Homo sapiens: one gene and its partners. The protein of the gene in region 1 interacts with the protein of each later gene in a biochemical or structural test. Each region holds a gene or a part of one and is shown in the gene's direction. Other genes may lie near its edges. The genes, in order: PODXL, MAST2, SHANK1, PDZD2, DLG5, LIMK2 and FRMPD4.

Region 1 (2,429 bases):
TGTTGTGGTCCCGTGGGAGAGGCCAGACTGGATTATTCCTCCTTTGCTGATCCTGGGTCACACTTCACCAGCCAGGGCTTTTGACGGAGACAGCAAATAGGCCTCTGCAAATCAATCAAAGGCTGCAACCCTATGGCCTCTTGGAGACAGATGATGACTGGCAAGGACTAGAGAGCAGGAGTGCCTGGCCAGGTCGGTCCTGACTCTCCTGACTCTCCATCGCTCTGTCCAAGGAGAACCCGGAGAGGCTCTGGGCTGATTCAGAGGTTACTGCTTTATATTCGTCCAAACTGTGTTAGTCTAGGCTTAGGACAGCTTCAGAATCTGACACCTTGCCTTGCTCTTGCCACCAGGACACCTATGTCAACAGGCCAAACAGCCATGCATCTATAAAGGTCATCATCTTCTGCCACCTTTACTGGGTTCTAAATGCTCTCTGATAATTCAGAGAGCATTGGGTCTGGGAAGAGGTAAGAGGAACACTAGAAGCTCAGCATGACTTAAACAGGTTGTAGCAAAGACAGTTTATCATCAGCTCTTTCAGTGGTAAACTGTGGTTTCCCCAAGCTGCACAGGAGGCCAGAAACCACAAGTATGATGACTAGGAAGCCTACTGTCATGAGAGTGGGGAGACAGGCAGCAAAGCTTATGAAGGAGGTACAGAATATTCTTTGCGTTGTAAGACAGAATACGGGTTTAATCTAGTCTAGGCACCAGATTTTTTTCCCGCTTGATAAGGAAAGCTAGCAGAAAGTTTATTTAAACCACTTCTTGAGCTTTATCTTTTTTGACAATATACTGGAGAAACTTTGAAGAACAAGTTCAAACTGATACATATACACATATTTTTTTGATAATGTAAATACAGTGACCATGTTAACCTACCCTGCACTGCTTTAAGTGAACATACTTTGAAAAAGCATTATGTTAGCTGAGTGATGGCCAAGTTTTTTCTCTGGACAGGAATGTAAATGTCTTACTGGAAATGACAAGTTTTTGCTTGATTTTTTTTTTTAAACAAAAAATGAAATATAACAAGACAAACTTATGATAAAGTATTTGTCTTGTAGATCAGGTGTTTTGTTTTGTTTTTTTAATTTTAAAATGCAACCCTGCCCCCTCCCCAGCAAAGTCACAGCTCCATTTCAGTAAAGGTTGGAGTCAATATGCTCTGGTTGGCAGGCAACCCTGTAGTCATGGAGAAAGGTATTTCAAGATCTAGTCCAATCTTTTTCTAGAGAAAAAGATAATCTGAAGCTCACAAAGATGAAGTGACTTCCTCAAAATCACATGGTTCAGGACAGAAACAAGATTAAAACCTGGATCCACAGACTGTGCGCCTCAGAAGGAATAATCGGTAAATTAAGAATTGCTACTCGAAGGTGCCAGAATGACACAAAGGACAGAATTCCTTTCCCAGTTGTTACCCTAGCAAGGCTAGGGAGGGCATGAACACAAACATAAGAACTGGTCTTCTACACTTTCTCTGAATCATTTAGGTTTAAGATGTAAGTGAACAATTCTTTCTTTCTGCCAAGAAACAAAGTTTTGGATGAGCTTTTATATATGGAACTTACTCCAACAGGACTGAGGGACCAAGGAAACATGATGGGGGAGGCAGAGAGGGCAAGAGTAAAACTGTAGCATAGCTTTTGTCACGGTCACTAGCTGATCCCTCAGGTCTGCTGCAAACACAGCATGGAGGACACAGATGACTCTTTGGTGTTGGTCTTTTTGTCTGCAGTGAATGTTCAACAGTTTGCCCAGGAACTGGGGGATCATATATGTCTTAGTGGACAGGGGTCTGAAGTACACTGGAATTTACTGAGAAACTTGTTTGTAAAAACTATAGTTAATAATTATTGCATTTTCTTACAAAAATATATTTTGGAAAATTGTATACTGTCAATTAAAGTGTTTTTGTGTAAACTGGTTCAAGCTCTAGTAGTTTCCTCGGACTTCTTAAAGCCTTCACTTGTGTATGAGGCTCATCGCCAAAGTGCCTGAGAATGTCGGCTCACACCCGTAGCACAGGAGCCTCCGTGCTGAGTTACACTTGTCCAACTCTGCAGGCAAAGAAATTAGGCAAGAGAAGGAGAGAAACCGGAAGAAAAAAAAAGGGGGATCCTAAAGGTGGTTATGAGTCTTTATGTTACTCAAGCTATCCTAGTGACTCTAAAGAACCTCACTTTCCCCTAAGATGACGTTGTATGTTTCGCTGTCTTCCTTCCCTCTACTTCTGCCTCAGATACATTGTGAATCACCACTATCAGAAATCCCCAAGAGGGCTGCTGAACATTGATCAGGTATGAAAACACTGGCAAAGAGACTATATATATACATATATATGTGTGTGTGTGTGTGTGTGTGTGTGTGTGTATGTATATATATATATATATATATATATATATATATATATGTAAAAACAA
Region 2 (3,500 bases), on another chromosome or scaffold:
CTACAGTGGAGTTGGGAAGCATGAGGCATGAGGACATGTAAATAGTAATTACAATACTGCAAGAAGTGTTGCAGTTGAGGTCAGTACACAGCGTAACGGGAACCTGGAAAAGGAAGTGCTTTAGTCTTCCCTGGAAGGAACATTCAGTGAATGCTCCCTGGGGGACGTGAGGCTTATTCAGCAAACTGAAGGATGAGTCTAAGTTTCCCAGATCGGGAGCATGGGAAGGAGCATTCAGTGGGGCACAGGGTGGGTTTGAAGAAGTGCTGAGGGGTAAGCCTGGAAGGTAGGCTGTGACAGGGTCATGGAGGGTGTCGGGTTCTCGGCTCTGGAGTTTTTCATTACCCTTACGGCCACTTGGAGACACCAGAAAGTTTAGGTAAGAATGTGACATGGCCGCATTTACTTTTTTCTTAAAAAATATTATTAAGGTATAATTTTCATACAATAAAATATATCCCTTTGATGGTACAGTTCATTGAGATTTAACAAATACACACTTGTAGAATCGTGGCCACAGCTGACATAGAGAATATTTCTGTCATATAAGTTCCCTTGTGCCCCTTTGAAGTCAGTCCTCTCTTCCTCCTGCTCCCAGACAATAACTTAACTGCTTTGTTTCACTAGGGATGGGTTTGCCTTTTGTACAGTTTCCTAGAAATGAAACCATGTTTCTGTGTGGTTTCTGTAGTATGTTCTGAATTCTTTCACTCAGCATGTTTGTAGAAATTCATACATGTTGTTGCATGTATCAGTAATTGGTTCCTATTTATTTCTGTGTAAATATTACATCAGATTTAGTCCTAAGAAAGATTACTTTGGCTGCAACATGGATAGTGAATTGGAAGAGAGGGCAGGATGAGCCAGGGACATCAGGGGAGAGGTACTCAAAGCAAATTCATGTGAGATGGGGTGGCCAGAACTCAGACAGTGAATGGTAGGATAATAGAGAGAAAGAGGTGGATTAGAGGGGTATTTATGAGAGAGACATTCTGACCAAATAGGAGCTAAGGAAGGATAAGAAGTTAAAAGGACTTCCAGGTCTGGCGTAGGTTATATCCAGATAGGTACAGTTCTCCAAAACAGTGAGGCCACAGGGAATGAGAACAGAGTTCAGGGCAGAGGCTATGCTGTGATAGAGCAGAGAGCCTCTCCCTCAGGAACATGAAGTCCTTGGCTAAGCAGGGGCTTGGAGTCAGACCTGGGCTGAATGCTGGTTTTCTGTTCCTTCCTACTACTGTGATTATGGACAAATCAGTGCATCCCTGAAAGCCTTGATTTCCTCAGTGAGGTCAAAGAGTTGCTAGAGGGTTTAACCCAGTGTGTGGCACTTAGTAGGCACTCAGTTATTATGTGCAGACAAGGATTGTGCTTTTCAATGGATTTCCAGCCTCTAGCACATAGGAGGTGCCCAGTAAATATTTGAAGGTATACATGCACCAGTAGGGCTTTGCCAAAGCTCTTGTGAGCCATAATTGAGTGTGTGCCAGGACAGCTGTGGACTGGGCATCTGAATACACCAGACAGTGCCACCTGGCTGATGGAAAGCATGGGACCAGATCAATAGGCTGAGCTCTCTTTAGAGTAAAACCTCTAGTTCTTACTGCCAGGAAGACAGCATATGCTTAGCATGTCCAATCTGGAGGTGACCTGTAAGACATCTTTGTCCCCATTCCTGTGATCCCTGAATCATGTTGTTTCTGAATATTCAGGGGTGGGAGTGTCCTATCACAGAGAAAGTCTTGTTCATCTCAGTCTACTATATGCTGTAAAACCAAAGATGCCAGCAGCTTTCGCTTATATCTGTCACCACTGACTATCTCTCTCCCTTGGTACAGGAGTTTGACCCTGAAGAGTTCTACCACCTTTTAGAAGCAGCTGAGGGCCACGCCAAAGAGGGACAAGGGATTAAATGTGACATTCCCCGCTACATCGTTAGCCAGCTGGGCCTCACCCGGGATCCCCTAGAAGGTGAGCATGCTGCCTAGTGGCTGCAAAGAGGCCCCACTGCTGCTGGCAAGCTCTAACAGCAGGGAAGCTGCTTGGAAAAGAGACTTAGCTTGGACATGGACACAACATGGCCCCGGGGGCCTCAGGATTTTAGGAGATACCCTGTGATCTCTGTGACAAAACAGTCTTTACTTTGGAACTGCTGTTCACATCTGCCTGATAGATCCCAACCTGGATTGCATTGGCCCGGCTGAGTTGCATTTAGAACCTCAGTTCCAAAGAGGTCAACAACAAAGGGCCACAATCACATTTGCAAAAATGGTCACCTCCTCTGCAACTTGCCTCTACTCTTGGCCACCTTACAGGTCTTCCTGTGTCTTTGGGGTAGTCCAACACAGGGCTTCAGAGGATACTGCCATTCTTCTGGGCTTCCTGCTGAACCCCTGCAGCAACCATGGGCTTCCAAGTCCCTGGTCTGTAGGTATCCTGCTCCTGCCTTCTGTGCTTCCCAGCCCCATCCAGTGAAGCAGTCTTGGCCAGCAGGATGGGAACTAGTAACCCAGTTTCAGGCCCTGTTTTCCAGGAAATGTCCCCAGTTTATAGAATTTGCCAGGCCCTGTGAATGGCAATGGACTTCTGGAAATGGGAGTAGCAGTAGGATTTGGCTTGTTTCCTGATCCAAAAGCTGGGACTACATTGGGTATAGTGCCATGGGACTGAATTCACATCCTAGGCTGATGCAAAAAGCATTAATGACTACCCTACATGCACCTGTTGTGTGATCTGAGGATACTGCTGAGATACCTGACATTGCCACGCACATTCTTCTCTTGTATCTTTGTTTCCAGAAATGGCCCAGTTGAGCAGCTGTGACAGTCCTGACACTCCAGAGACAGATGATTCTATTGAGGTAAAAACCCTGAGCTCCTACCCCATTCCTGGAGCCTGGGCCCTATGAAGCAAAGAGCTATGAATTCTCTTTAAGAGAATATCTGAGGAAGGGATGGGGGAGTTGGTGACAGCAAACACTGAGAAGTCATTCTACTCCCAGAAGAATGAGCAGGAGACTGCACTAGAGCTGACAGCTGAGAAGATGCTAGAGCCACAGCTTCTGCAAGGATATGGGCTCTGAGAAGCATGCCTGTCTCCTGCCTTTTCCCTTGTCTTCCAGGGCCATGGGGCATCTCTGCCATCTAAAAAGACACCCTCTGAAGAGGACTTCGAGACCATTAAGCTCATCAGCAATGGCGCCTATGGGTAAAGGCAGGGGTCAGGGTGTGGCCAGGACTGAAGCCGGGTCAGCCTTTGATCTCTTCCATGTGAGAGTGTATGCTGCCCAGTCCTCTGGGCAGATGCCTCGGGGTGGACCTTCTCACTCCCAGAAGCCTCCTGGGTGGGCAGGAGTTCAGATTCCTCTGACATCCGATCATTGTTCCTTTCCCAGACAAGATTCCCACGCCTCTTACTACCACGCATCCTCCATTCCCTGAGCTCTGGGGAAGCATTGAGCCGTGTCATCAGGACATGGTCTATCAAGAAGTTTAAGAGTT
Region 3 (3,500 bases), on another chromosome or scaffold:
ACCCGGGGCCAGGGCAGTGGGGCACCTGGTAGCCTGGCCTCTGTTAGAGGCCTCCAGGGCCGCTCAATGTCCGTCCCAGACGACGCCCACTTCAGCATGATGGTCTTCAGGATTGGCATCCCGGACCTGCACCAGACAGTGAGTACCTGCCCACTGGCCAGCGGCAGGAGAGGGACAGTGCCCCAACCGACATGGGGAGTCCACTGGTGCTGGGTATCCTCCCAGGAATCACCCCCACACTCAGCTCCTGGCTCACTTCCCAACCCACCTCAGGCTCTCCTCTGGCCCCTGGCCCACCCTAGCCCCTATCTCTTCCCCAACCAGAAATGCCTTCGCTTCAACCCCGATGCCACCATCTGGACGGCCAAGCAGCAGGTGCTCTGTGCCCTGAGCGAGAGCCTGCAGGATGTGCTCAACTATGGCCTGTTCCAACCGGCCACCTCCGGCCGCGATGCCAACTTCCTGGAGGAGGAGAGGCTGCTGCGGGAGTACCCCCAGTCCTTTGAGAAGGGGGTCCCCTACCTGGAGGTGAAGCTTCCCCAACTCCTTCACTGATAAGAGAAGGCATGCCCTAAAACACATCTGCCCCCCACCCACTTTTTAACACACTCGAAACCTTAACGAGGGGGCACCCAGTGTGCGAGTCCAGACCTTCTAAGCATCACAGGGAAGTCAGAGAGTCCTGAGTTCAAATTACCATCTGTTCTGCTTCTGACCAGCTAAGTGGCCTTGGCCAAGTCACTTTCCTGCCCCAAGCTTCTCCTCACCCATCAAATTGGGGGAGGATTCCCAATTACAGTAGGCACTCTAGAACATTCCCTGTGGGGTCCAGACTCCTCCTCCTTCAAGGCAGGGGTTGCAGTGCACATATACCATAATACCCAGCACTGTCGGAAAAGCCACTGCCACCCATCTACCGCCTAGACCAAGGTTCCAGGGCTGTTTTCACTCCCACCCTGAGCTACCCCGGGGAATTAGAAGGGGATCAGACCTTCCCCTACCCCAAGCCTTCTCCCCAGGCCCCTGATTCCAAGTCTCTGTGTCTCTCTCACTACCCTACCCTTGACCTCAGTTCCGATACAAGACCCGAGTTTACAAACAGACCAACCTGGATGAGAAGCAGCTGGCCAAGTTGCACACGAAGGTGAGAAAACCCTGCTGGCATCTATCCCCTATAGCCCCCTACCACTGGAGCCCCCTACCCAACCACTTTCTCTCCCCACCTCTTCCCAATAGACCTCCACATTCCCCAAGCCAGCGATCCCTCTGGCCACTGCCCCCGCTTAACTTGGGATGCTGTACCACATTTGAGACAACCACAAATACCCCCCATTATCCCCATCACAACCCCTTCTTACTTTCCTCTTTTGCCCTTCATCCCTCTGCCTGGGCCCACATCATTCCCACCTGGCCTCCTTTGAGTCTCCCTTCTCTTCCCCTGCCTCCCCCCATATCCATCCAAGGCCTCTTTACTTCCCCACCTTGGCCTAGGACCCTGACACTGAAGGTCCTTCTGCCTAGAGTCTATTTCAAAGACAGGCTACATTTCTCCCAACCTCATAGCCTGAATCTCTGCAAAATCCAACCATTACACCCCCCTTTCCAGCCATATCTGTCCTCCTGGTACCTTGCCCGCCAGTCCTCAGCCCCTGTCTGTCCTGTGTCTCGATGGTGAGAGCTGGGAGGAAATCGGGAACTGCTTTGGTCAGAAATGAAGAACTCTTGATCCTTGAGAAGGAAAAACTCCCAGTCCCTCCTTGTCTACCCTCTCCCCACCACAGCATGCATTGAACTCTTTCCTCCCCTAAATGTTCCATCCCTCCAGACTTTCACGGTCCACTTTGGGAACCACTGGCCAAGTGTGGCTCCTGAGTGCTTGCAGTGTGTTTGGTCCCAACTAAGACTCGCTGTGAGTGTGAAATACACACTGGGTTTCAAAGACTTAGTACCAAAAAAAAGTTAAATAACCTCATTAATAATTTTCATCTCAATTACCTGTTGAAACAGTAACATTGTAGCTATATCAGTTAAATAACATATATCATTAACACGAATTTCAACACAACTAACACTTCACCCCCAACCACCCTGATTTTTTTTTTTTTTTTTTTTGAGACGGGGTCTTGCTCTGTCACCCGGGCTGCAGTGGTGCAATCATGGCTCACTGCAGCCTCAACCTTTCAGGGTTCAAAGGATCCTTCCAGCTCAGCCTCCCGAGTAGCTGGGACTACAGGCGTGTGCCACCACAACCTGGCTAGTTTTTTGCATTTTTTGTAGAGATAAGGGTCTCACTTTGTTGCTCAGGCTGGTCTCGAACCCCTGGGCCCAAGTGATCCTCCCGCCTCGGCCTCCCAAAGGGCTGGGTATTTTCTCTGTAAAGGAGGCTGCTAGAAGCTTTTCAATGGCGTATGTGACTCCACGTATATTTTCACTGGACGTCGCTGCTTGAGGACCCTGCTTCTCTGCCTTGCTCCTGACTGTCCTGTCTTCTCTCTCTTTGCCCATGGCTCAGACGGGGTTGAAGAAGTTCCTGGAGTATGTGCAGCTCGGGACATCTGACAAGGTGGCGCGGCTGCTGGACAAGGGGCTGGACCCCAATTACCATGACTCGGATTCGGGAGGTAGGGAGGGGTGCGCATCAGGAGGACCTCAGGGCCAGGACAGAGCTGGGGAGCAGGGGTGCCATCTGCATTCACATCCATTCCTGACTGGTGTCTCCCAAACACATTGCTGTCCAAGGGGGAGGCCACGGGGCCAGAGGCTGTGGGGTGGAGAGCTGCAGAGCCTGGAAAATGGGAAGGGATGGAGGGGAGGAGAAGGGGCTTCATGTGACCAGCTTTTCCCGCCCTTCAGAGACCCCCTTGACACTGGCGGCCCAGACCGAAGGCTCTGTAGAGGTGATTCGAACCCTGTGCCTGGGCGGGGCCCACATTGACTTCCGGGCCCGGGATGGCATGACCGCACTGCATAAGGCCGCATGCGCCCGACACTGCCTGGCACTCACGGTGAGGCTTCGGGGACCCCCCATCCCCGCCATGGGGCCCTCTCTCCTTTTCCCTTTGTTCTTTCTCAAACCTCAGTTCTTTGGTTTCAGTTAAAAATAGGCCCTCTCATGTCCCCAGTTCAAAGCCCCTTTCCATAGACTGAGACACAGCCCCTATTGTCACCCTTGTCAGGCCCCCCAGATGCACCCACCTGGGCTATAGCTGACATCACACAGACCCGGGCACGGCCTCCTCCCCTAAACACCCAGAACGTCTCCATCCCCTGTGGCCCAGCTTAATACCAAATCTGCCTCTGTCTCCCCAAGGTGTAAACCCTTCTCATTCCTTAAAATACGAAGTGAGCTCCCTGCTATGCCCCCAGATAGAGCCCCTCCACACACACCCTGAAAACAGCCCCCCAGCTACCCTTCCAAACCAGCACTGCACCAGCTCCCCTCCCTCCTCTCTCACATGCAAATACAGCCCCTTCCCCACGTACACAGCCTCAAATGCACT
Region 4 (3,500 bases), on another chromosome or scaffold:
AGTTCTCAAGCCATTTTGGACGGGAGGGTCACCCCCCACACAGCCTGGGTCGCTCTCGGGACAGCCAGGTCCCTGTGACAAGCAGTGTTGTCCCCGAGGCAAAGGCATCCAGAGGTGGTCTTCCCAGCCTGGCTAATGGACAGGGCATATATAGTGTAAAGCCGCTGCTGGACACATCGAGGAATCTTCCAGCCACAGATGAAGGGGATATCATTTCAGTCCAGGAGACGAGCTGCCTAGTCACAGACAAAATCAAAGTCACCAGACGACACTACTGCTATGAGCAGAACTGGCCCCATGAATCTACCTCATTTTTCTCTGTGAAGCAGCGGATCAAGTCTTTTGAGAACCTGGCCAATGCTGACCGGCCTGTAGCCAAGTCCGGGGCTTCCCCATTTTTGTCGGTGAGCTCCAAGCCTCCCATTGGGAGGCGGTCTTCCGGCAGCATTGTTTCCGGGAGCCTGGGCCACCCAGGTGACGCAGCAGCAAGGTTGTTGAGACGCAGCTTGAGTTCCTGCAGCGAAAACCAAAGCGAAGCCGGCACCCTCCTGCCCCAGATGGCCAAGTCTCCCTCAATCATGACACTGACCATCTCTCGGCAGAACCCACCAGAGACCAGTAGCAAGGGCTCTGATTCGGAACTAAAGAAATCACTTGGTCCTTTGGGAATTCCCACCCCAACGATGACCCTGGCTTCTCCTGTTAAGAGGAACAAGTCCTCGGTACGCCACACGCAGCCCTCGCCCGTGTCCCGCTCCAAGCTCCAGGAGCTGAGAGCCTTGAGCATGCCTGACCTTGACAAGCTCTGCAGCGAGGATTACTCAGCAGGGCCGAGCGCCGTGCTCTTCAAAACTGAGCTGGAGATCACCCCCAGGAGGTCACCTGGCCCTCCTGCTGGAGGCGTTTCGTGTCCCGAGAAGGGCGGGAACAGGGCCTGTCCAGGAGGAAGTGGCCCTAAAACCAGTGCTGCTGAGACACCCAGTTCAGCCAGTGATACGGGTGAAGCTGCCCAGGATCTGCCTTTTAGAAGAAGCTGGTCAGTTAAGTAAGTATCTGCCCACTACTTTTATTTCAGATAAACTTGTTTCATTTTGGAATAGTTTTAGATTTATAGAAAAGTTGCAAAGATAATGCAGAGTTCCCACTTACTTTTTTTTTTTTTTTTTTTTTTTGAGATGGAGCATCGCTCTGTCGCCCAGGCTGGAGTGCAATGGCGCGATCTCGGCTCACTGCAACCTCTGCCTCCCGGGTTCAAGCGATTCTCCTGCCTCAGCCTCCTGAGTAGCTGGGATTACAGGCGTGCACCACCACACCTGGCTAATTTTTGTATTTTTAATAGAGACGGGGTTTCACCATGTTGGTCAGGCTGGTCTCAAACTCCTAACCTTGTGATCCGCCTGCCTCGGCCTCCCAAAGTGCCGGGATTACAGGTGTGAGCCACTGCACCCGGCCACTTCTTACCCACTCTTCCTAATGTTCACATCTCTCATAACCACGGTCCATTCGTCAAAAGTAAGAAATTAATGTTGGAGCAATACCATTAACTACAGACTTCATTCAGATTTTGCTGAATAAATTCTGCTAATATCGTTTTTCTGTCCCAGGATCCAGGATACTACATTCCATTTTAGTGCCCTTGGTTTTTAATATCACTGCTGGAAAAATAAAAGTGCCTGCAGGGAAACATGTTTACCAAAGTGTCGCTCTGAGGAGAGGCTTCTAGAGGACATGGCACTTAAGCAAAAGCAACATGAGAGGGGCATGCAGAGGAAGAGAGAGCACAGCACGGGGGAATTTGGACTTTGGAGGTGGCTGGAGTTAAACGGAGAATTTCTAACATATTTAAAAATATTTCACTTGAGGCCAGCCGTGGTGGCTCACACCTGTAATCCCAGCACTTTAGGAGGCTGAGCCGGGCAGATCACTTAAGGTGAGGAGTTCAAGACCAGCCTGGCCAACATGGTGAAACCCCATCTCTACTAAAAATACAAAAATTAGCTGGGGATGGTGGCAGGCGCCTGTAATCCCACCTACTTGGGAGGCTGAGGCAGGAGAATCGCTTGAACCCAGGAGGCTGATGTTGCAGTGAGCTGAGATCGCGTCACTGCACTCCAGCCTGGGCAACAGAGTAAGACTCAATCTCGAAAAAAAAAAAAAAAAAGCCAGGCCCAGTGGCTCAGGCCTATAGTCCCAGCACTTTGGGAGACCAAGGCAGGCGGATCACTTGAGGTCAGGAGTTCAAGACCAGCCTGGCCAATATGGTGAAACCCTATCTCTACTAAAAATAAAAAATTAGCCAGGCGTGGTGGCAGGTGCCTGTGATCCCAACTACTCGGGAGGCTGAGGCACGAGAATAGCTTGAACCCAGGAGGTAGAGGTTGCAGTGAGCTGAGATCGTGCCACTGCACTCCAGCCTGGGTGACAGAGCTAGACTCCATCTCAATAAAAATAAAAATATTTCACTTGAACATATGTATTGAATATTTTAAAACATGTCAGAAGTGTCCTGTTAAGCTCCAGCATTGGTCCCATAACTTCTTGAGGGGATCTCTGAATTCATAGCAGTTCCCCTTGCCATTGGCAGTGAATGACATTTCTGTTCAGCACTCAGGATTTATTCTTCCATTAGTTTGGAATGGAAGTTTTGACCAAAAGAGAGCAGAAAATACCTGTTCTCTTTTGTATAGTAGAAAGGAGATCATTTTAAATGCATTCTTATAAAATGAAGAAATTGCTTTTTTCTTTAATGTTCTTCAAATATATTTATATTATTTAGTTTGGATCAACTTCTAGTCTCAGCGGGGGACCAGCAAAGATTACAGTCTGTTTTATCGTCAGTGGGATCGAAATCTACCATCCTAACTCTCATTCAGGAAGCGAAAGCACAATCAGAGGTGAGTGAAACACAGAAAGCTCAGGAACATGAATTGCGGCCGCGTGAGTGCCCAGGTATGTGCTGCCTGCCCAGACAGCCGAGGAGAGCCCGCCCCGAGTCCTGGAGAGGGAGGACTGCCTTGGGTTGCGAGTTTCACAGCTCAGTCTGACTTTGGCCTCACGTGCTGCTAGCCAGCTTCAGAAGCTAGACCTTGTCTTGAATGTTCAGGTGCCAGATGGGTGTCACTGCTGTTTTCATCCCCCAAGTAGCAACTAGTTACCATTCTCCTAACTCCTATGTGTGGAGTTTGTTTGCAGAGAGTCCTCAAAGCAGAGCTAGTCATCTCGGAAATACCTCTCGCCACCTAACTGTGGACATAAACTAGTCAAGGGAGCCACCTGCTGGTGAGAGAAGAGTTACATTGGTGTAGTCCCGCCGTTGCCCTGAAATATGGTGGACCCCTGAACAACATGAGGGTTGGGGCACTGACCTTCGAGCAGTGGAAAATCCACATATAACTTTTAACTCTCCCAAAAACTTAACTACTAACAACCTACTGTTGACCGGAAACCTTACTGATAACATAAACAGTCAATTAACACAAGTTTTGTCAGTTATATGTATT
Region 5 (3,500 bases), on another chromosome or scaffold:
TGTGCTATTTGACAATCCATGGTAGGAAAAATGGAAGAGCATTTTGTTACCCTGAGTAATATAGCACAACAGTGGCAGTAGTAGACAGCAACTAGCCTTAGAACCAGAAAACTGGGAATCTCCTGGTGTTTCTGAGGGTTCTGTGGGAGCTCCTTGTATACTATGCCAAGCAGGTGTCAGAGCTGTCCTCCCTGAGCTGAATTTGCTGTTATAGTCCTCATGCCCAGAATAGAGCCTAGTACAAGATAGGTGTTCGATAATTTTTTGTTGAACGAATGAATAGTCAGCTGTGTGTAGAGTGAATGATGTATCCTTGTCCAGATCATCTTCAAATATACATGCAGATTCCTAAGTGGTGACCTCATGGTGGCAGAGGCTGTGGGAGAGGAGGAAGGCTTGAGCAAGCCCCAGATGTACACAGGGATATCACCGCCCACGGTATGTCTGTGATGGAAGCAGGTGGTGTGACATTGATGTCTGAAGTTCCCAAGGTTGCCCATCAGGTACTGGTGGTGTGGAGCTGGCTGCCAGGAGCCATGTGGAGCACCCACGCTGTCTAAGAGTAGAAAGTCATTCCCTTTCTACACATAGAATTTGAATGTCAACTTGATGTCCTCAAAAGAATACTGAGGAACTTTTCTTTAAAAAAAAAAAAAAAAAAAAAAAAAAAAGCCCTGAACTGGAGATCTGTTCCTAACTGCAAAATCTTGACCTTGGCAGAGCCTTTTAGCTTCCTGGTGCTTGTTTTTTTTTTTTCCCCCAGTTCAACAGTCAAAACAGAAGAGGTTGAGCATTGACGGGAGACTTGCTCATTCCTGTGGGGTTTTGAGCACTTCCCAGGTGGCATTTGGTCCAAGGAGGTTGGGTGATTGGGTTGGACTCGATTTTGGGGGCCCTTCCAGCTCTACATCAGGATTGCTGTTAATCTGATTTAATGTTAGTGTTGAGTGGTTTTTGATACTCTGGTTTTCCATTTCCTGAAAAAGTAAGCAGAGTAGGATAAATATTTTGTTTCAGTTTTTTTTTTGTTTGTTTGTTTTGAGATGGAGCCTTGCTCTGTCGCCCAGGCTGGAGTGCAGTGGTGCAATCTCAGCTTACTGCACCCTCTGCCTCCCAGGTTCAAGTGATTCTCTTGTCTCAGCCTTCCGAGTGGCTGGGATTACAGGTGTGTGCCATCACCCCCGGCTAATTTTTATATTTTTAGTAGAGACGGGATTTTGCCATCTTGGCCAGGCTGGTCTCGAATTCCTGACCTCAGGTGATCCGCCTACCTCAGCCTCCCAGAGTGCTGTGATTATAGGCATGAGCCACCACTCTCGGCCGTTGTCTCATTTTTTTTTGTCCCACCTCATTCCAACCACCTGTATGTTCTGCCCCATGCGAGGGGGCTCTATAGTCGTTTCCTGAAACCCTGGGAAGATGTGAGCCACAGAGGTAGCAAACATAGAGAAAGAGGGCTGAGCTGCGTGTTGGCCTGGACAGTAGGGATGCTATGTGTGTTCAGCAGGGAAGAATCTTAAATGGGATTGCGCTGGGGGGAAATTGGATTTTTTTTTCGCCTTTTACCTGGGATAGACTGCATTCCTCTGAACGGTGTATCTCTATTGATCTTTTTGAGACTGCGTTCCACAAAAGTGCTACAGAAACATTTTAAACCAAATAGAGATGTTTGGAGCGTCCCATGTTGGCAGTCTATCCCTCTAAACCCTTGGTAGATAATTCCTGTTGACCTTGACGTTCATTTCACACTAAGGCTCATAACCCATTTGCTTTGAGGATTTAAACAAAATTGTGATAATAATTTACATAACATGAAATTTACCATTTGAACCTTTTTTTTTTTTGATACAGAGTCTCACTCTGTCACCTAGGCTGGAGTGCAATGGTGCGATCTCGGCTCATGCAACCTTCGCCTCCCCAGTTGCAGCAATTCTCCTCCTTCAGCCTCCCAAGTAGCTGGGACTACAGGCATGTGCCACCACACCTGGCTAATTTTTTTGTATTTTTAGTAGAGACAAGGTTTCCCCATGTTGGCCAGGCTGGTCTTGAACTCCTGACCTCAAATGGTCCGCCCACCTTGGCCTCTCAAAGTGCTGGGATTACAGGCGTGAGCCACCGCACCCGGCCTTGAACCATTTTTTATTGTGGAAAAATATATATAACATTTACTATTTTAATAACTTTTTAAGTGTACAAATTCAGTAGCATTAAGTTTTTTGTTTTTTGTTTTTTTTTTTGAGACAGAGTTTTGCTCTTGTTGCCCAGGCTGGAGTACAATGGCATGATCTCGGCTCACCACAACCTCCGCCTCCTGGGTTCTCCTGCCTCAGTCTCCCGGGTAGCTGAGATTACAGGTGCCCACCACCACGCCTGGCTAATTTTTGTATTTTTAGTAGAGACGGGGTTTCACCACGTTGGCCAGGCTGGTCTCGAACTCCGTACCTCAGGTGATCCACCCGCCTCGGCCTCCCAAAGTGCTGGGATTACAGGCGTGAGCCACTGCGCCCAGCCAGCATTAAGTATTTGTACACTGCTGTGCAAACATCAGCACCATCCATCTCTAGAAATTTTTCATCTTGCAAAATCGAAACTCTGTACCTATTGAATAATAACTACATGGCCCCCTAGACCTTGACAGTCACCATTATATGAATATTTCCTGTCTGTCTCTTTTTTTCTTTCTTTCTTTCTTGCTGTCTTTCTCTCTCTCTCTTTCTTCTTTTTTTTTTTTTGGAGATGGAGTCTCACTCTGTTGCTCAGGCTGGAATGCATGGAGTGCGGTGGTACTCATGGCTCACTGCAGCTTCAACCTCCCATGCTCAATTGATCCTCCCACCTCAGCCTCCCGAGTAGCAGGGACTATAGGCACATGCCACCACACCCAGCTCCTTTTTTTGTTTGTTTGTTTTTTTTTGAGATGGAGTCTCGTTCTCTTGCCCAGGCTGCAGTGCAGTGGCGCGATCTCGGCTCACTGCAAGCTCTGCCTCCCGGGTTCACGCCATTCTCCCACCTCAGCCTCCTGAGTAGCTGGGACTACAGGCGCCCGCCACCATGCCCGACTGATTTTTTGTTTTTGTATTTTTTTAAGAGACGGGGCTTTGCCATGTTGCCCAGGCTGGTCTTGAACTCCTGGATTCAAGCGATCTGGCCGCCTTGGCCTCTCAAGTTGTCCGTTTCTAGGAATTTGACTACTTTAGGTATCTTTTATAAGTGAAGTCAATACAGATTTGTCTTTTTGTGACTGGCTTACTTCTCTAAGCATAAAGTCCTCAAGGTTCATCCATATTTTAGTATATGTCAAAATTCCTTTTTTAGGCCGAATAATATTCATATATATATATATATATATATTCTATATTTTATTTGTTTCTTTACCTGTTGATGGACACATTTGGGTTGTTTTCACCTTTTAGCCATTGTGAATAATGCTGCTATGACACCATGGGTGTACAAATATCTCTTCGAGTCCCTGCTTTCTCTTCTTTTGGGTTTATACCCAG
Region 6 (3,500 bases), on another chromosome or scaffold:
AAACCATGTTCTGAGACACCTCAGATTCCTCGTGTAACCGGAGAATCGATAACAAATCAAATATTTACTGAGTGCCTGTGATGTCTGTGGCACTGGGCAGGACCAAGTTTTACCTCTTATAAATTTTAACAGGTGTTAGAGCCAGGAGAGAGTTTTGAGATAATGTATAGTCTCCTTGTTTTACCTATGAAGAAACTGAGGCTCAGGGAAAAAAAACGGAGTTGTCCAGGGTCACTCAACTAGTGGTAGAGCCAGAACCAAGGTAAGACTTCTGCAGTGTTCTTTCCAGTATTCCAGGCTGCTTAAGACGTACAGGGTCTGGCACATGGTAAGCCCTTAATAAGTATTTGTGGAAATGAGTTATATATAGTTTGTGCCTCTGAGAAACTTACTGTCTAGTTAAGGTAATTAAGGCAAAAAACAAAACTGCCATGCTGATCAGTAGTGGGATTGCGCCTGTGAAAAGCCACCGCACTCCAGCCTGGGCTACATAGCAAGATCCCCATCTCTTAAAAAAAAGAAAAAAATTGATAAGACAAGCTGTTATAAGGCTTGCGTATGATAACATTATAGAATTTCAAAGATGAGGGAGAATTCTCTTCAAACATTTATTCCACAAATATATATTGAGTTCCTGCTATGTGCTAAACTCTTTTGGCCCCTAGGGATACAGCAAGGAACAAGATAGACCAAATCCCTTCCCTCATGTAGTGTATGTTCTGGTGGGGAGAGATAGACAGCAAGTAAATGTATGAACATCATATTCAGGGATAAATCCATTGAAGAGAAGTGAAGTAGGGTAAGGGGATAGAAGAAGTGAGTTGTCAGGGAATGTGTTTGGCATGTTTAAAGAATAGCAGGGTATCCAGGGTGGCCATCAGTTTTGGTTAGGGAATACTTCTTGAAGTGGGTAAGACTTGAGAAATCTTAAATAGGCTTAAAGAAGGTGGGGAAGATGATATCTTAGTAGGGAAGAAACTTTGGGAGTAGGAGACAAAAGTAGGCAAGTTTCAGGTCTTCATAAAGGGTAGCAAATACGTGTGGTAGAGGCAAGGATTGGGAGGTGGAAGATTCATAGGAAGTGGAAGGTACAGCTGAGAATGTGGGTGCAACCGGACTAGAGGGTTTAATGCCAGGCTGAGGATTTTGGAAGTTTCTAGTCTACAGTAGGCACCGTAGGTTTAGAGAAAGGAAGACTCATGATGTGGGCACAGGGCCACCAATCTGGAGGTGGGTATAGTGGGCCCTGAGATGAGGTCTTAGTGGTAGCAATGAAGAAGGCACCAACCAATAAAAGATGCCTCCTGACATAGGCAGGCCAGGGTGACTTGGATGGTCCTGGATATGTGATGGAGCAGGGTAGGGTCCAAAATGACCACAAGATTTCAAAACTAAATAAAAATCCGTCATGATCAAGGGGCTGTATTAGGCTTTCCACATTCATGGTGGATTTTCTGCATCTTCTGGAGGCTGAGCTGATTCCCAGAACAGGGCTGCCTTCTTGTTAGTGTAACCTTGAGCGGGTCTGATAGGGCCCACCATCACACACATCTCATTTCAATGAGAGGACCTGAAACTGTAGCAGTCTCTTACAAGTCTACCTTCTTTCTCATCCTTTATCTATTTTTATATAGTAGAAAGAATTAGACTATTTTACCTATTAATTTACATTGAATAGTAACTAGAACATGAAACCAATGCCTGGTTTCATTAAAGTGTTCCTTGAACATTCTTTCTGGGATTCTTTTTTATCATGTCTTTCTGCCTGTAATTTGTTTTGTCCAGGAAAGAAAGTCTAAAATGTAGTTAAAGACAGGCTTTGAGCCAGGTGCAGTGGCTCACGCCTGTAATCCCAGCACTTTGGGAGGCTGAGGTGGGTGGATCACAAGGTCAGGAGTTCAAACCAGTCTGGCCAAGATGGTGAAACCCCATCTCTACTAAAATACAAAAATTAGCCGGGCATGGGGGCAGGTGCCTGTAATCCCAGCTACTCGGGAGGCTGAGGCAGAGAATTGCTTGAACCTGGGAGGCAGAGGTTGCAGTGAGCCGAGGTTGCACCACCGCACTCCAGCCTGGGTGACAGAGCGAGACTCCGTCTCAGAAAAAAAAAAAAAGACAGGCTTTGGAGACTAGACCTGTGGTCTAATCCCAGCTCAAACATTTATTAGCTGAGTATTTCAGTTTCCTCTTCCGTAAAATGAGAACAATAATAGTTCTTTAAGACTAGTCCTGATCTCATGGGATCTTTGTATTCAGTTAGCTCATACTTGCGTAGTGCTTAGGACATTGTCTGGCATAAAGTAGTTTTTTTCCTCTATCATTGACAACTGGCAGAGAACTGCTGTATGAGAATATATCAATTGGTTAACCAGTTCTCTGATAAAGATATTTTTATAGGCCCTCCATAGATAAGAAAATGCCTACTCATTCACAGTTGAGTGAACTTCTGGTTGGAAGTTGCAGTCTGGGTGGCCTGAAAGACATAAGAACCATCTGTCTCATTTGTCACTGCAGTGTATTTTGTTAATGTACTGAGTTTGCCTTGCCTGTAGCACCTGGTTTGTCCCTCTCTGACATGTTATTTCTGTGTATATCCATGTCCTTCACACCCCATGAGTACACACCAAGGGCCCCAGTAATTCCTGGCCTACTCTGTGCCTTGTACATGGGCACATAGAAAAAAGTTTGCTGAGTTTGTTTTGAAAACCTTCCCTTCAGATTTTAGAAGTTTCTGTATTCAGCTTAACCTTTTCCCCAGCCAACTTCCTAGATACACACGCAGGAAGGAAGAGAAGTTAGTCACAAATCGGTCCAACTAAGTGCCTGGCACCATGGGAGATATTTTCACATCTATTACATTATTTCTATTAATCCACTTGGTAATCCTGTAAAGCAGGTGGTATTATCCTCTTTTTAAAGATTAGGAGACAAGCTCAGAGAGGTCAAATAATTTGCCCAAGGACACAGAGGCAAACAGTGACAGATTCAGGTTTCAAACACACATACATTTACCCCTCACAAATTTTTCCAAATAAACCAAAGAAGGGAAGAAGAGAATAACAGCAAGAAGGAAACTTTCTGAGATACCTGTGTCTGTGCCTTAACCTGAAAAAGGAGAGGCCCTTGGTTTGGTGTCAGTCTCTCAGAGCTGGAAGAAATCACTTGATCCCTCCTTTTACAAAAGAACAATCCAAGGTTTAGAGAAGCTCGAAAGCTCTTTTAAAAATCATCTAATCTTTTTTTTTCCTGAGACACTCCTTTTGGTAAAATTTGGTAAGCTAGTGAGGAAGAAAACCCTTTGGGTTACAGGGAGAGTATCTAGAGGCATGTTAATCCTTACTGTTAGTCTTTTTGATAGTCACTTCATTAAAATGTGATCTTTTTCTCTTGGCTTTTCCCCAGCAGCTGCTGCCCTGCCCTTCTGCTTTCTGCTTTGTCCCAGAACAAGTGGGATTTATACACCTGACCCGCCAGTTCCCAAGGGGCCCAGGGGTTACCAT
Region 7 (3,500 bases), on another chromosome or scaffold:
TTTTGACTTTTTAGAGTGTCTACATTTAACTATTCGTTTCCAGAATCTATACCCTTTTAATCGTGGGAAAAATCAGAATTGACAGTGCCCCTCAATAACCCAGTACCATTAAAAAAAAATTGCTGCCAAGTGTTGGAATTGCTGGTAAGTAGTTGGCACCCTTTACATCATCAGTTAGAGTTATGACCCTTGATTGCATCCTTCGTGGGTGGCACAGTGTGTCATGGTTCTATCTGAAGATGGTTTTTCCCGTTCTTCTAATTTTCTGGTTCTTAAACTGCTTGATAGTTTACATGCAGTTTTACTTCACTGTTTCCTTGGTAACAGTTCTATATTATTTTCCATCCTTGTAGATGAGAGCATTACAGATGATTGCCTTATAAACCAGTAATAGTATAAAAACAGGCATATATTTTTATTGTTACTGCTCTTTGTATTGACTATTTTATTTGTAAAGCAGATGCATTCTTTCAAATGTTTATAGAAGAATGCAGTCCAGTAGAAAAACATATGATTATGCCCCTTTTGCCAGAGGGAGATGATTTGAGATCCAAAACTCATAGGGATGTTATTAAATTGAGTGATATGTTCATAGATTAAGTCCCTGATTTGGCTTCTTTTCTTTAAGCAAAACGGTAGACTTGATGATAATGATTGAGTCCCCACTGTTGATATGATGATTTCTTATAGTAGTAGGTAAATTTGGGGAATGCTTTACTTTGCATTTTCTTATAGTTGCATGGGTTATTTTGTGGTATATAGCAGTGACTAATATCTAATATTAGAATGCTAATTTTCTTACAAGTATCTTATATTTGAGGAAAAATACAAAATACATATGTATAGTTTCCTTAGATTTTTATGTCAAGTCCATTTAGATACTACTAAACTTCTGTCTTTTACCTTTATCTTATTCAGAATTAAATATTTCCCAGGGAAAAGGGGAAGTTAAAGAAGTAATGCAAAAGGTCAGGGTTTTTCCCATATCCCCTATTTTTACTGAGTAATTGTATTAATATTGCTGATAATAGTGAGCTCTGGAGGCTAGCAATGAAAAAACCCCAAAGACTCTGGATTTGAATTTTATTAAAAATGCTACTTGCTCATCTTCTGAATCCTTTCTAAGTTCTGCTGATTTTTGTGACTGTCAGGAGGTGAAATGATGAACAGTTTCATAACAGAACTAGATTCCTGTTTTAGGAATATTTAACTCTAGTTTCCCAAGAGTTGCTAGTTTGAAGCTGTGAAAGTCTAGTCGCTCGCAGTTCTGGGAAGAAGGCGTCTAGGTCAGGCTTTGTACCATTTCAAGCATCTCTCTCTCTCTCTCTTATTGTCTGGGGCAAGTGAGTTTCACCTTCTTGCTATCAGAATTTGGTACAGACTGACAGCTGCAGTGAAACTTACTTGTACTTTAAATGCATGACCTGGAAAGTCTCACTTTCTGCTTATGGTCCTTCCAGCTGTTCATTCTCCCCCTTTACATACACATACACTGTTCAACTTTAGTACTTTGTTATTTCATTTGAGGTTAACCGTGGAAGTTTAGCTGTAAGAGAATGTACATTATTGGTGAACTAGAAATGTATCTTTAAGGAATGAACTTGAAACCACTGGTTTCACACTTGGCTCAATAAGAAAACTCAAGACCGTTTAAAATCTTTGTTTAAGCATACCGTCCTGAAATCTACCACTGTTACCATCAAATGATCTTTAATCTTGAAAGCTAATCATAGCAGGAAAAGAAAATTATGAATAGGCTAAAACAGGGGTTGGCATACTGTGGCCTATGAGCCAAATCTGGCTTGCTGACTGTTATGGCATAGCCTGTGAGCAAAGAATGGTTTCTTTATTTTTAAATGGTTCAAAAATATCAAAAAAAGAATAATATGAAATTAAAATTTCAGTGTCCATAAATAAAGTTTTATTGGAACACATGTCCATTCATTTATGTATTATCTATGGCTGCATTTGCCTGACAACAGCAAAGTTGAATAGATGCCACAGAGACCTTATGGCCTACAAAGCCTAAAATATTTACTCTCTGGCTCTTTACAGAAAAAGTTAACTGACCCCTGGGTTAAACAATGCCTTTTTCCTGTTTTCTCTTCTTTATCATTAGCAGCACACATGTGGGCACACACATGTCAAATCGAGCATATTATAATAAATACTTGAATTCACTGACCCCTGGGTTAAACAATGCCTTTTCCTGTTTTCGCTTCTTTATCATTATCAGCACACATGCGGGCACACACGTCAAATTGAGCATATTATAATAAATACTTGAATTCACTAATGCACATTACCAGTTAATATAGACCTTATCTTTATTGAAACTTCTGATCTCAAATTACTTCTTGAACTGTTGGAAACTGACCATTAGAAGTGGACATAATTGTCCTACTAATTTGTTGCACTTGGAAAAATTATGCATGCTTATTCTTTGGTCACTAAGTTGACCTGATATTTTTGGGGAGCTGGAGAGTTGCTTGTTAAGGTGATGTTTGCCTTCCATAAATATCCAGTTCAAAATGTATGGAAAAAGAATGGGTGATACTACTTGTATAGCCTCAACCAATGTGTGCTGGTGAACTGATAATCAAGTCAACAGGAGAATGCCTAGTATTTCCTTACAGTACACTTGAGCCATCTGGTCCTAATGGCTAATGACCTTCACTAATCTGTTTCCAAATGGAAATAAAACCAGATAAGTGGATTTAGTTGTAGTCAGAGGAATGGAGGTAGGCTGTATCAATTTGGAGTTGAGTTTAATCTAACTTTCCTATGATTTGACTGAGAGCATTATAATGAGAAATCATAGACTACCTTTAGTTCTTTACAGCAAAAACATATATCAAAAGTATGCTGCCTTGCTTCTGAGTAATTTAGGTCATTATGTACTTAAGCTCTGAAAATTATCTTGAAGAAATCTAAGCCTTAGTTTTAGATAACAAAGTTAACATTCCCATTTTTTTTTTTTTCCTGGCAAAGAGATGAGAAGGGTTTTCTGCCAGAACTGTTCTTTCAGAAATATATTTTCAAGTATGGTTTACAGAATTTGGCATAAGATAAATAGTCTATACTAAATAATTAGTGAGTGAAGTCATATACAATTCATTCTAACATTTGTTGCAAACAAATTGTCATATTTGTTTAGCTGAACAATTACCATGTCAGTACTTCTTTATTGAATATAACGGAATACAATGTACATGTTAAAAGTAAATAGCCTGCTCTTGGACTTGGTCTCAGAGAATAAACTTTTATTTCTGTTTTTACATTTGAAGTATATATATATTATATATATAAAATATAATATATATATTTGGTGATTGATGGTTAAAAAGTCATCAACTTGTATTTCCAAGGAGTCTCTGTTTTACTGCTTTAAGCTCAATAAGCAAAGTTATGATGATATTGAAATGGGTTTTTATAGATGTCAGTAAGTTTTTATTTTAGAAAGTCTTTTTTGAAAGCTAGGAAAACACAATCATTTCTAT

Evidence for each region.
Region 2: the proteins of PODXL (region 1) and MAST2 interact in a test that uses a peptide from one of them, tested with the Homo sapiens proteins (one large-scale study listed by IntAct).
Region 3: the proteins of PODXL (region 1) and SHANK1 interact in a test that uses a peptide from one of them, tested with the Homo sapiens proteins (one large-scale study listed by IntAct).
Region 4: the proteins of PODXL (region 1) and PDZD2 interact in a test that uses a peptide from one of them, tested with the Homo sapiens proteins (one large-scale study listed by IntAct).
Region 5: the proteins of PODXL (region 1) and DLG5 interact in a test that uses a peptide from one of them, tested with the Homo sapiens proteins (one large-scale study listed by IntAct).
Region 6: the proteins of PODXL (region 1) and LIMK2 interact in a test that uses a peptide from one of them, tested with the Homo sapiens proteins (one large-scale study listed by IntAct).
Region 7: the proteins of PODXL (region 1) and FRMPD4 interact in a test that uses a peptide from one of them, tested with the Homo sapiens proteins (one large-scale study listed by IntAct).

What each region holds. Positions count from the first base shown.
Region 1 is NC_000007.14:131,499,771-131,502,199, reverse strand, and holds the end of PODXL (podocalyxin isoform 1 precursor), read left to right. Parts: 3' UTR 1-1,929; downstream 1,930-2,429. UniProt on the Homo sapiens protein: Involved in the regulation of both adhesion and cell morphology and cancer progression. Functions as an anti-adhesive molecule that maintains an open filtration pathway between neighboring foot processes in the podocyte by charge repulsion.
Region 2 is NC_000001.11:46,020,112-46,023,611, forward strand, and holds part of MAST2 (microtubule-associated serine/threonine-protein kinase 2), read left to right. Parts: intron 1-1,838; coding exon 1,839-1,971; intron 1,972-2,798; coding exon 2,799-2,860; intron 2,861-3,121; coding exon 3,122-3,207; intron 3,208-3,500. UniProt on the Homo sapiens protein: Appears to link the dystrophin/utrophin network with microtubule filaments via the syntrophins. Phosphorylation of DMD or UTRN may modulate their affinities for associated proteins. Functions in a multi-protein complex in spermatid maturation.
Region 3 is NC_000019.10:50,713,303-50,716,802, reverse strand, and holds part of SHANK1 (SH3 and multiple ankyrin repeat domains protein 1), read left to right. Parts: coding exon 1-138; intron 139-324; coding exon 325-528; intron 529-1,072; coding exon 1,073-1,144; intron 1,145-2,512; coding exon 2,513-2,621; intron 2,622-2,853; coding exon 2,854-3,005; intron 3,006-3,500. UniProt on the Homo sapiens protein: Seems to be an adapter protein in the postsynaptic density (PSD) of excitatory synapses that interconnects receptors of the postsynaptic membrane including NMDA-type and metabotropic glutamate receptors via complexes with GKAP/PSD-95 and Homer, respectively, and the actin-based cytoskeleton.
Region 4 is NC_000005.10:32,090,131-32,093,630, forward strand, and holds part of PDZD2 (PDZ domain-containing protein 2), read left to right. Parts: coding exon 1-1,045; intron 1,046-2,776; coding exon 2,777-2,894; intron 2,895-3,480; exon of another isoform or gene 3,481-3,500.
Region 5 is NC_000010.11:77,916,756-77,920,255, reverse strand, and holds part of DLG5 (disks large homolog 5), read left to right. Parts: intron 1-3,500. UniProt on the Homo sapiens protein: Acts as a regulator of the Hippo signaling pathway.
Region 6 is NC_000022.11:31,215,298-31,218,797, forward strand, and holds part of LIMK2 (LIM domain kinase 2), read left to right. Parts: intron 1-3,500. UniProt on the Homo sapiens protein: Serine/threonine-protein kinase that plays an essential role in the regulation of actin filament dynamics. Acts downstream of several Rho family GTPase signal transduction pathways.
Region 7 is NC_000023.11:12,141,473-12,144,972, forward strand, and holds part of FRMPD4 (FERM and PDZ domain-containing protein 4), read left to right. Parts: intron 1-3,500. UniProt on the Homo sapiens protein: Positive regulator of dendritic spine morphogenesis and density. Required for the maintenance of excitatory synaptic transmission. Binds phosphatidylinositol 4,5-bisphosphate.